Regions from separate parts of the Homo sapiens genome. Here region 1 is linked to region 2. Evidence: fine-mapped expression QTL. Tissue or cell type: NK cells. Region 2 holds a variant in brackets; the other region holds the start of a gene. All regions are shown on one strand. Distances are from middle to middle.

Region 1 (2,687 bases), 95 kb after region 2:
ATAGTGAGCCCATTTCCCCTAGGCAGGTGCTTTTGGGTAACCCTGCTCACATGGCACTCCTCCTTCAGGACCAACCCTCCCCAGCTTCCCAGCGGAAGCACAGCTAAGGAAGCAAATCTCACAGACCCCAACATTGCCACAGAACCTAAGTGTTCTCTCTGATTAATATTAGCCTATGGTCCTAAATACTTGCTCTTAGCTGGGGCAATAAAGCGAGGGTGGTTAAAAGGCATATTATTTTAAACTGGCCCTGACGTTGATTCTGTTTTTCCCAGTCAGCTAATGTTACCATTTTTCTAAGTTGCATCCTGTCCCTCGTTGCATTTTGGTAGATAACATCTCTGGTTTCATTCTTACAGAAAGATTTGCTACGGGAAAGGAGAAACACGTTACCTCTCAGAGCATGGCTTCCATGGCTGATCTGAGATAGCCTCCAGCTCTTTGCTATTTTGGATACTGGGAAGTCAGATATGTGTATAAATACATGGACTATTGGCCCTTGTAAATCTCATTGAAAAATGCTACCCTTGGGTGGCTGATCAGTAGAATTGCTATAAATAGTAGCTCTATCAAATACCTTGATATTTCAATTATATTATATACAAATAAAAAACTTGGCCTAATAAAACATACATATATATGTGTATATATATACCACACATACTTGGGCTAATATGTTCTAACCAATTCACACTTTCAGTTTAATTAGGTTCATCACTGGGAAAAAAAACAGTTTATAAAGCAATAAATTTTCTTATAAATGTTTTTCTGTTTAGTAGAACATGGATTGTGGACCTGGTTTCTGACAGCCATTTTGAATTGTAGTAAATATTTTGACAAAAGCAACAGCAGTATTAAGCACATGAGAGAATTACTTGAACTGGGTCACACACAGTTTTACGTAGCATTTTCCCTTTAACTGCGTGCTTGAAGATAAATATATCATTAAGAACATAGAGTAAAAGAGTTTTTTTTTAACTGACATTTTATATATGCTTATGTCATGGAGCATGTTACATACCTTTATAAACAGTGGAGTGTTTTCAGCCAATGATGCTCTGATTCAAACACAATGATCTGGTTGCCCAGAGAAGACACCCACAGGTCCAGAAAGGACCACTGGGCTGGCCCCACAGAGAAGAGATGAGCTCAAGAGCCCGTGCTCTCACTCTCTGTAGGGAGCTCGCTACTCTTTGCTGAGAGGGCATTTTAGTGTTCTCTCCCAGTTCCTACTCTGCAGGCAGCATCTCAGAGAACGGAGAGATGCTCCCTGAGCCTTAGAAAATAAAATAAAATAAAAGAGGGCAGCCTCCTGTGGCTTGGCCTTTATGTCAAGTCCACGTTTAACTGAGAAAAGCACCATTTCAAGCAACCTGGAAGAGACTCAAGCAGAGATAAAACTTGGTATGGCCCAGAAATAGGAAGTAAATTATTTCCTATACATTACCTAACGTCACGGTAGCAACCCTTAGAAAACAGGAAGAGATAGAAGCAGACACGAAAAAAAAAAAAAAAGAGCCACCGCTCAGCTCTTTAGTAATTGTTACTATTGACCTAACAACCTATAAAGAGCTTGCTGCCCAGAAATGTAGGTGTGCAAAAAAACATTGCATTAGAGATGAGGTTGTTCTGTGCAGGCAAGTTTAAGAATTAGAGCCTAGGTGGTCGTTTTCCTGGAGATGTGGATGGAACAAGTGTTTGCAGAACCTCCACATGTAACCCCAGAGGTTCCTGAGGGCCCAGAATGAGCATTTCCACTGCAATTGACTATGGTGGGAGGTCCCAGTGAAAGATTTCTGCGATGCTGTCTTTATGTAAAATGGTGATATTTTGTTCAACATGGATTTGTTTGAATTAGGTTTTATTTTTAAGATATGGCACTGATCACTCTATTCAACATAGTACTGAAAATCCTAGCCAGAGCAATCAGGCAAGAGAAAGAAATAAAAGGCATCCAAATAGGAAAAGAGGAAGTCAAGTTATCTCTCTTCACTGATGATATGATTCTATATCTAGAAAACCCTAAAGTTGCCACCAAAAGACTCCTAGACCCAATGAATGACTTCAGTAGTTTAAGGATACAAAAATCAATGTACAAAAATCAGTAGCATTTCTATACACCAGTAATGTTCAAGCCGAGAGCCAAATCAAGAACACAATCCCATTTACAATAGCAACACACACACACACACACACACACACACACACACACACCTAGGAATACATCTAACCAAGGAGGTGAAAGATCTCTACAAGGAGAACTACAAAATACTACTGAAAGAAAACAAACAAATGATAAAACACTCCATGCTCATGGATTATAAGACTCAATATCATTAAAATGTCCATACTGCTCAAAGCAATTCAACACTATTCCTATCAAATTACCAATGTCATTTTTCACAGAATTAGAAAAAAACTATTCCAGAATTCATATGGAACCAAAAAGGAGCCCGAATAGCCAAAGCAATCCTAAGCAAAAATAACAAAGCCAGAGGCATCACATTATCTGACTTCAAACTATACTACAAGGCCACAATAACCAACACAGCATGGTATTGGTATAAAAATAGACACACAGACCAATGGAACAGAATAGAGAACCCAGAAATAAAGCTGCACACCTAAAACCAACTGATTTTCAACAAAGTCAACAAAAATAAACAGTGAAAGAAAGGACCCCCTAT
Region 2 (2,687 bases):
CAAACATACTGTTTAGGTTAGCTCGATGTTTCCCCAAGTGCACTGGGTAGACCACTGGTAATATGAAGATGGTATTTAACTGGCACATGAACAATTTTTAATAGTTTTACTACATTTAATGCATATTTGAAAATATACTTAACTCGAAAATTCAACAAGTTTTCATAGACATTATTGCTTAGGGCAATAATTGCTTCTTTAACACAGAGATAATTTAAATAAAAGTATTAAGTAAAAAATATACCCACATGTGGCATCTTGATACATATGGCAAAAAGCATTAAGATGGTTCTCAAATGACTGAAGTTTGGAACAAATAGATTAATTATAATAACGGCGATTACAGTTTGATGAGTTTGGGGAAAAAAGCTATTAACTGCCATCAATTAGTATACCTGTTCCTTCCATATCCTCGATCCCACTTTTCCCTCCAATGAATTGTGCCCCACTGACTTCAAGTGTCTTCAAGAGGTATGTAAATAGACTAATAACATTGTGTTGGGCTGTAAAAGTAAGTCTACTTATTCTTGCAAGGAGTACATAAATCACCTTCATAAGAAGCTATGATTTTGATTTAAGGATGTTTTCTCTGTTAATGAATAATGCTAAATGTCCAGAAAACATCAAATCCAAGGGGAAAAGATTCTGGATTATTGCACTGTGGTTCGTGCCCTCCTGTGGCTTCAGAGTTTCGCTACATTTAAGAATCTAAAACCAGATTCCTAAGTTACAGACTATAAAATATGGCAGATAATGACAAACGAGCTATGTGTGAAAAGGAAGCACCACAAGAAAGTGAGATCATTTGACATGACCTAATCCCTTTGTTGAGTGGAATGGGATACCAATACGGCCAACGAGGCATTGGGTCAATGATTAGGAATAATCAGATGTCCAATTCATAAAGCATATGATTTGCAGGGGTTTTGGTTAAAATGTTAACAAATCACGTGAGACATTTGCATTTTAAGTTTTATTTTTATCAAAACAAAATAATTTAACCATATAAAGAAAGAAAGTTCAACAAACAACCAAGAAGCCAATCATTTCCCTGATTGTGAACAACCAATTGAGTAGTAAATCCTGAACAGTTGACCGCATATACAAGACATTCCGTCATCCTCTAGTGCTCCAAGTGGCAGAGGCTGATGTTTTTCCCTGGTTCCTATTCTTCCAGTGGTGAAGTAATGTGCTCAACTGTTCCTATACTTCTTCAGACCAAATTATGTATATTCCTACGTAAGTGCAAAGCATGGATGAAAAGAATCATACAGGGTAGAAATCCAGCACATAAGATTTTCTAGGTTCTGACCCTTATATTTAATGGGTTCTGAAAAATAAGGACAATAAATTGTGCTTAAATATTGAGAAATGTAGTGTTTCAAAAGCCAAAGTGCCTCCCTACATGAACTATGGGAAGAACAACTGAAGTGAGGAAAAATACACAAGCCCAGCTTGCTGCAG[C/T]AGTAGAAATATGATCACCCATAGAGCCAGGCAGGTCATATTCTCCTCACCATATTAAATTATGTCTGGGGAGTTGAGCAGCAGCACATTCCGATAATGATGACAGTTTCCATAACTATAAAGATCTGCTGCACCAGGCAAATTCTGTGCAAAATGCAAATTTCTGTGCTGGGGAAAAAAATGAATAATGTGATCATTCTAAGTAATGAATGTAAATGCAAGGAAATACTTTTTGGCATGAGACTGCAAATTGTTTATCTTTCATGCCAAGAACTGTGGTCACAGTGCACTTCTGCAAGGTTCCTCTTCCGGTCTCAGCTTTAGAAGAGTGATTTCAGGAAGAAAAAGTCTGTCTTGCCCTAGGTTACCCACCATGCTATTGGCAGTGTTTCCATTAAAATTCAGAGACACCCTCCTCCATCTTTTTTTTTAATCACTTGGCAAATGAACCATAGGTTCTCCTGGTTACTGTGAGATGTGAACCAAAGGGGATTATTAGCTTTGTCTCAAATCTCAAGGGTTAAGCCTAACAGGAGAGATGAGCTGTTTTTCAATGTGTTTTACAAGAAGGAGGATTCCAGTTGTCCACCAAAAATCACATGACTTTGAGTCACTTAACAATGTAGGTTGCCAAGGAGGGAAGGATTGAAACCTCTTCCCTCCATACATCTTTAACGACAAGATCTAGCTGGGTGTAGGTACAGGTGGAGAGAGAAACCTGGTGAGTCTTGAACATCATGGGGAAATGTCACTTTTGATATTGGCAAAAAAAAATTCAGTGCCCTTCCCTTAGTTCATGACAGCATCCCTCTAACTATTCTCTGTGGAAGAAACTGAGGCATCAGTTGGTTAAGACCCTTACCTAAAGATATAATAAAATTAACACTGGGAAAATTAGCACTGGGGAAAGAAGGAAATCCCTGATCTTTAAACTCTGGTTTGCTTTGTTCTAAAATAAATTTGTTTTTCCTTAACCATCATGCAGTACACACTTGCAGAGTATAAAACTGTGGTAGTTATCAATTGATAATACTGACATTTTATTTTTAGTAACCCAAACTGGGTTCTAGGTTGTTAATGTTACCCTTAAAATGTATTCTTATAATTGTATTTCACTTTAAGAAAACCCATAGGAAAATTAAGATTTATAAAATCAGAGATTGTTCATTGCTTTATAAAAAGATTCTTCATTTAAAAAAAATCTTTACCTTAGGATGCTTTTA

Direction of the effects. Positions count from the first base shown, and alleles are read on the strand shown. Sizes are in standard deviations (SD) of each study's normalised expression.
For the expression in NK cells of the gene that starts at base 1,408 in region 1, C is the low allele of the variant in region 2 and T is the other (moderate effect, 0.41 SD a copy in Gilchrist 2021).

Evidence for each region. PIP is the estimated chance that this variant, and not a neighbour inherited with it, causes the effect.
Region 1: it holds the start of ZNF831, and the variant in region 2 is fine-mapped to the expression of ZNF831 in NK cells (Gilchrist 2021, PIP 0.95).

What each region holds. Positions count from the first base shown.
Region 1 is chr20:59,162,542-59,165,228 of GRCh38, reverse strand. ZNF831 (zinc finger protein 831) reads right to left here and starts at 1,408. Exons shown (of 6, transcript NM_178457.3): 1 at 1,022-1,408.
Region 2 is chr20:59,257,385-59,260,071 of GRCh38, reverse strand. ZNF831 (zinc finger protein 831) reads right to left here. Exons shown (of 6, transcript NM_178457.3): 6 at 959-2,687. Among named protein-coding and RNA genes, the nearest start is that of EDN3, 42 kb to the left of the region's middle. The variant C/T (reference allele first, on the strand shown) is at 1,465.